2 linked regions of the Homo sapiens genome follow. The protein of the gene in region 1 purifies or fractionates together with the protein of each later gene. This does not show direct contact. Each region holds a gene or a part of one and is shown on either strand. Other genes may lie near its edges.

Region 1 (3,755 bases):
GATCCATGTGCAAAACATACAGTTCTATCACTACCTCTTTTAAATAATCTATTATAAGGTTCTCTACTAAATGGTAAGAAATCAAGTTGTTAAAAGTCATACTCAAGAGGCTGGGCACGGTGGTGCATGCCTCTAATCCCAGCACTTTGGGAGGCTGAGATGGGTAGATCACTTGAGGTCAGGAATTCGACAACAGCCTGGCCAACATGGTGAAACCCCGTTTCTACAAAAATTAGCCAGGCACGGTGGCATGTGCCTGTAGTCCCAACTACTCAGGAGGCTGAGGCAGGAGAATTGTTTGAACCCAGGAGGAGGAGGCTGCAGTGAGCCGAAATTGCGCCACTGCACTCCAGCCTACGCAAGAGCGAGACTCTGTCTCAAAAAACAACAACAAAAAAAGTCATACTCATTTAACATGGCTAGTCAATTCTAAGACATGTGTGATCACAAAACTAACTAGATCTTTTTCATGAAGTACACCACACAAGTATAACCAAAGCACATTATCTTACTAATATAACCAAATTCTGCTTTAAATTTCAAATCTAAAGAAAAAAATGCACATCCAGCTATAATTTACCAACATACATATTCTTACCTCAAAGCAATGGCTTCAGATTTTATTCAACATTTTCCAAATCATCTCAGGAAGAAATAGCATTTATCTGATAAACCGTTATCGATTATTCTGCAATATACTAAATTTGCAAATAATAGTAATCAACATTGAAAAATGATTCAGTCTACTGACCTCTTTTTCTGAAAATTCCACATTTACATCATTCTTCTGAACATTCTTGATCATAAGTGTAATGACTACTTGAGATTCTGTTTGATACCAGTCATACCTATTAAAAAAAAAAAAGAAACTTAGGTAACTCTTCTAATTTTTTTAAAGCTATTGTCAAAACAAAAACTAGTCTGATAAACAACAAGAGCCCCACCTGGAGGAAGAAAACAGCAAAGCAACTACTGATTCACAGAAACAACTTTATATAACTAGTTTTTTATGCTCTGTACTAATGGAAAAAAATGGTAAGGTAAATGATGCTCACACCTTTCCAGTAGACTTAAATACTTGCATGATTTTCTGGGTTCTGACTCATCTCTAGCACTGTTGTGCTTAAACTAATATAAATATTAAAGATGTCATTTATTTTAAACAAGCTAATATTTATATGCCATCAATAGAGTTTTTATACTCTCATTTCATCCAAATACTACAGATAAACACTTAAATCCCTATTTTACAGATGATAAAACTTAAGCTCAGAAAGGTGAAGCAATAAGCCTGAGTCAACACTCCAAGCTCTCAAAACTGATGTTGGAAGCAGATAGACTTGAGCACACAAAACAGGGGCAAATGAACTAAAATTAAAATCATATGAAGTTTAACTGTGTCAGGCACAACATCATATACAACACTTTCCTTCAATTTCAAGATACATGGAAAGACTAATGGGTCTAGATTCTAATTATGTGCATCTTTTGTACTGAAAGCTCTAGAAACGTAGGAATCCTCACTTTCAAATTAGACTAGATTAAAAGCTCTCTGAGGGCAGAGCTGTTTATCCTGTCGCTATTATATCCCTAGGACCAAGCACAGTGTCCGGTACACGTATATTAAGTTAGATGTGGGATTATTTTATGCTCTGAACACCTTAATTATTATTTCATGGTTATGTGCCCTACCCCTGCTGCTGCCACCAGGGCAAGTCAAAGTTCCTTATCTACTAGGTACTTGGAGTTTCATCCTGTATCTCCCCACAACTACCATGAATAGATGGTTTTTAACTTTTCCAGGCCATTTTAGGTAATTATATCCAAAACCACCTTGATTAAAGAAATGAACTTTAAGAGTCTCGGTTTCCCTTTGCAATTCAGTAAGGATGCAAAGCTCCAGATCAACGGCTTGTGTTTCTGTTACGGTCCTAAGAATACAAGCTGTACACAGGCTAATGAATAATTAAAAGTCAAAGACTTGCTAGTTGCTTATTCATTATTATAATTGCTGCCCTCAGCAATATTAACTTTCAACGCATACAGAATGTTCCTATGAAAAATTTGCTCCAAATATAAAAGGCAGGTTAAGTTACAATTCTGTTAGATCTACTACTAACTTGTTTACCTGTGTAGTAACATAAACTTAACTGGAAGAGACTCTCCTTAACATATGGAAAGGTAACATAATATGAAACCAAGTGAAGCAACTTTAAAGATGAGAAATGATTTGAATTTAACTGAAGTACAAATATTAATCCTTAAACAGCCTTAAAATTGGCTTTACATAAAGCTATTACACAATTTTAGAAAACAAACAAAAACTTAAAAATCACATGGTAAGAATTTGCTTACTATTAAACTACAGGGTTTCTTCCTCTTTAGGCATATTTATCATGCATTGTTTTATGAAAAAGAAACACTCACTTGATTTTTGACTGATGAGTCCACTGGGATGCAGATTGATTTTGGTAAGTTGAAAGAGAAAGATTTTTACAAGTCAGTTTAGCAACTGTATTATTAAAATGCATGTATTATTAATTTACCCAACACTGCAGTTATTTTGATATAAAATAACTACATGAAAATTTTCTTCAAAGACATAGTAACTGTAATTGTTAAATACCACTAGTTTTCGGAAAAAAATTAGAATGCTCAGCATTTAAAAAATCTTAGATTGAATTTCATAAAAGATTTTTGCTCTAAAATAACAGAACTTTAAATAACAGAAAACTTCTAAAGGCATGATTAGAAAAGGTTGCTTATATAAAATGGCCAGTTCTAAGATTCAGCAACTTCCTAAACTAAAATAACATTGTTTTAAAAATCGTTTTAAAGAAACAGAGTAATTAGCCAGGCTTGGTGGTGTACATCTGTAGTCCCAGCTACTTGGAAGGCTGAGGTGGGAAGATTGCTTGAGCCCAGGAGTTTGAAGCTCAAGTGCACTATGATGGCACCACTGCACTCCAGCCTGCATGACAGAGCAAGACCCTGTCAATTTCCAATTTTCTTTAACTTTTGTCTTAGCCTATCATAAAAAGCCCTACAAGTGATTCAAACTGTTGAACCTAAATAAATGCAATAAGGTTTTAGTAACGAAAAGATAAATGATCATCATGACCATATTAAAACACACGAAATCAACTTTAACCACACACTAAATTCATTAAAATAGGCCAATAATTTTCATGACTGGAAACTTCTATATTTATCAAAAAATGATTTTATTTCAGTGCCTAGAGGAACCAGCACTTAAATGGAATTGCTTAATATTTAAATATCAGACAGCTCATCCTGAGTCTTGTCTCAAATATATTTGGTAGCTGAAATTTAAAATAATAAAAACATGAAGAATGAAAACTTTGGACTTACCACCTCAGATTCTGAGCCTATTAAAACATAAAAAGGAAACATTTTCAGGGAACAGTGCATTTTTAAGCAAAGTTATTTGTATGATTTCTATAGCACAAACATACTGATTAAGCAAGCAAATTCTCCGTACCTTTCAACTAAAGAAAAGTGGTTTCATTTTGCATCCTGAATTCATTTTAGACTCCTTAGTAATTTCTTACTGATATACCATACAAGCAAATCCACCCAAATCCCCCTTTCAACATAAGAAGCTATGCAAAAACCAGTGTATCTTTGGAAGTCCACATCTAAGGAAACGTATACTATTTAAAAGAAATTATAAAGATAAAAACAAATTTGTTTAAACCAAAAAAATTTCAGATGTTTACTTCTTTTTAAATTGA
Region 2 (3,755 bases), on another chromosome or scaffold:
AGCCTAACTACCAATATATCCTAAAGTGCCCAAACTGTGATTTTGAAAATCAAAGTATAGTTCAACTAATTCTCCCATAAAATAGGATAATACACCCATTTCCCTAGCTTGATATGAGAATTAAAAGAGAAACCATATGAATAGTACTTAGCCCCGTTCCTGCCACCGGGCACTCAATAAGGCACTTTAGTATAACATAGACGTTCAAACCCTGGCTCCACCAATTAACCATTGTGGTATATTAGGCAAATTATTGATTTCTTTTGGGCTCCCTTTTCTACTCTGTAAAGTGGGGATAATACCTGCCTTATAAATGTAGTTCTACAGAGAAAATGAGATAATGTAAAAAAAAAAACAAAAAAAAAAAGGACTGAGAACATCGCCTGGGTCATACAAAGTGCTCTGTAAATGTTAACTGCTATTAACAGTTAAGTAGCCCTGGTGGGCTTGAGAGGTGTGGTTTAAGAAAAGCCGATCTCCAAAGAGGGCGGGGCCAGAGAAACGGCCAATTTCAAATTTACACCCAGATTAGGACTACTGCAGGAAATAATTATGCCAGATTGCTCTCCTGGAGGATTTCAACGTTTTCCCGTTGTCTAATGGCTCTTAGCATGTGAGGAGTCGTGAGCCCCTCTGAAAAATTGATGAAAGGGGTGTGCTGTCTCAGAAAAGTGCACAGCCTTTGTACACAATTCCAAGGGGTCGACAGAGAGGTCTGAGAACCATCCACCAACTCTTCCCCCAAGAATTTACAGCTCCCAGAAAATGCACTCCTGGTCTAAGCCATGAAGACGGGCCTCGACCCCTGGGCCCTGTCCCCGATTTAGAGGACTGACTGCTGCCAAGCCTCGGAGCTGTAACCAAAACAAAAGCAGCTCGCGTCCGGCGCCCCAAAGAGGTAGGTATCTTCAGGCCACAGAAGCACCCACACAGTCCTGTGCTCTACTGGGCAGCGACCAAACTCGATCCTAGGACCCGTGTGCAAGAACAAGGAGTACAGAACTGCGGGCTCTGGATCATCCCTTAGATTTTATCACGGCCACTGGCCACCTCCGAGGAAGGGTTCAAAGCCAGACTAGGCAGCGGTCTCTGAGGGAAGGTTTTCCTGATGGTTCCAGGAACCAAGAAGAGAGGGAGATGTGTGAAGCGAAAGAGGGAGATCCCAAACATTTCGCTTAGGCACCCATGACTCAAAGTAAATGGTCAAGAAAGGTCATCGCAGCCCGAAATCCACCGCCTCCTCAGCATCGGGAGCGCGGGAGCCAGGGCGCCGGGCCGCGCGAAGGCTTCTGGGGGCTGTAGTCCCCCGCTCGGCCCTCACCGCGACGCCGGAGAGCTGGGAACGGCAGGTGAACTACAACTCCCAGAGGGTAGCCCGCCTCCGCGACGACCACAGATCCGCATCAAAAGAACTGGTCCAGAACTGCACATCTAAACCTAGGTTTTCTGCTCTCCACTATTTAATTCAGCTCCGTGAAGTAAACCTTAGGACTCGGGGTAGGGATCGCCTTACCTTCTCCGGGAGGCAAAGCCGCGTCCACGCGCGCCACCGCCATATTTGCTGCTTGCTAATAATACCAGGCAACCGTCCTCCCGCGGCTCTGTGGAGCTTGTAATCTGAAGGAGGGAGCCGGAAACTATAACTCCCAGGATGCACGGCTCCCAGACGGCCCAATTGGCTGCTTACGCCTAATGATGTGAAGCTGGAGTTAGAATCTGAGGGTAGTGAGCTCAGGGACCCTGGCCCACTCGCTTATTTGACAGATGAGTCAACTGCGTTATTAGATGATCATTTCACTTCCTTGTCCAGGCGTTTGCGAAATTTGACACTTTTACCATCGGGATGATTGTAAGGAAGCTACTTAATGCAGACTGCATTTTACAACTCATTGCTGGAAGTCTCTGTGGGGGCTGCTCCATTCTTTTGATAATTGTGAATAAGTTGAAAGTTTTCAACTCCGCTATAGGAATGACCGATCTTGTTGAGATCATAAAAGTGGATACATTTTATTTGAAATTTTAGTTAAGTAAAAGTAAAGTATGCCGAAATAGAAACTTTTATACAGTATTTTTAAGTGATTGTTTGATTGTTCTTGAATATTTGACAAATCTTTTGACTTACGGGTATAAGTATGAACCAAGAACTTTTCCAGGGAGTATTCAAAATAACTTTAAAATATAATCTCCAGGCCGGGCGCAGTGGTTCACGTCTGTAATCCCAGCACTTTGGGAGGTCAACGCAGGCTGATCACCTGAGGTCGGGAATTCGAGACCCGCCTGGCCAACATGGAGAAACCCCGTCTGTAGTAAAAATACAAAAAAATTAGCCTGGCGTGGCGGCGCATGCCTGTAATCCCAGGTACTCGGGAGGCTGAGGCAGGAGAATCGCTTGAACCCGGGAGGCAGAGGTTGCAGTGAGCCGATATCATGCCACTGCACTCCAGCCTGGGCAACAAGAGCGAAACTATGTCTCAAAAATATATATATTTTATATAGATATTGCATATATTATAATTATATATAAATTATATATTATATATGTTATATATTTAGATATTATATATTATATGTTATATATTTAGATATTATATATTATATATGTTATATATTTAGATATTATATATTATATATGTTATATATTTAGATATATTATATATGTCATATATTTATATATTATATATTATATATGTTATATATTTAGATATTATATATTATATATGTCATATATTTAGATATTATATATTATATATGTTATATATTTAGATATTATATATTATATATGTTATATATTTAGATATATATGTTATATGTTATATATTTATATATTATATATGTTATACATTTATATATTATATATGTTATATATTTATATATTATATATTATATATGTTATATATTTATATATTATATATTATATATGTTATATATTTATATATTATATATTATATATGTTATATATTTATATATTATATATTATATATGTTATATATTTATATATTATATATGTTATATGTTATATATTATATATGTTATATATTTATATATTATATGTGTTATATATGTTATATATTATATATTATATATGTTATATATATTATATATTATATATTATATATGTTATATATTATATATTATATATGTTATAGATTTATATATTATATATTATATATGTTATATATTTATATATTATATATTATATATGTTATATATTTATATATAAATATAGATTATGTATATAAATATATTTTTATATAGTCTCCAAATTCAAGAAATACATTGCCTAGTTGGAAGAAAGCAGGCTCACACTTTTTTCTTTTTTTTTTTTTAGAGACAATTTTTTTTTGCCCAGGCTGGCCTTGAACTCCTGAGCTCAAGTGATCCTTCTGCCTCAGCCCGGCAAAGTGCTGGGATTACAAGCGTGAGCAACGGCGCCGAGCCTTCTTTTGATGCAACTATTATATGCTAAACGGTGTGATTGTGACTGAGCTCACTAATATTTCAGGGAATTGAGAAAGAAATAGAATCTGAAATCTTCAGTGAAGACTTGATGGAGGAAGTAAATGTACCCATCTTTTGATGGGTAGACTGAACAGTTAGTTCTAAAGTAAAAGGTGAAAAGACAGCACAGGCTGCAGGTGGTAACGAAGTTGTGCTCACAGGAAGTGAGAAACTAAACAGAGTATACAAAAAACTTCTGCTTTCTACTACCAGCTCTCCCACTTCCTCTTGCAACCTTTATTCTGAACTCCCCTCTT

The links.
Region 2: the proteins of SUGT1 (region 1) and CEP97 purify together in Homo sapiens (affinity purification with mass spectrometry; 3 studies listed by BioGRID and IntAct, with this or other methods). This does not show direct contact.

The regions. Positions count from the first base shown.
Region 1 is NC_000013.11:52,662,730-52,666,484, reverse strand, and holds part of SUGT1 (protein SGT1 homolog), read right to left. Parts: intron 3,390-3,755; coding exon 3,373-3,389; intron 2,451-3,372; coding exon 2,428-2,450; intron 849-2,427; coding exon 752-848; intron 1-751. UniProt on the Homo sapiens protein: May play a role in ubiquitination and subsequent proteasomal degradation of target proteins.
Region 2 is NC_000003.12:101,722,478-101,726,232, reverse strand, and holds the start of CEP97 (centrosomal protein of 97 kDa), read right to left. Parts: upstream 1,620-3,755; 5' UTR 1,557-1,619; coding exon 1,514-1,556; intron 1-1,513. UniProt on the Homo sapiens protein: Acts as a key negative regulator of ciliogenesis in collaboration with CCP110 by capping the mother centriole thereby preventing cilia formation. Required for recruitment of CCP110 to the centrosome.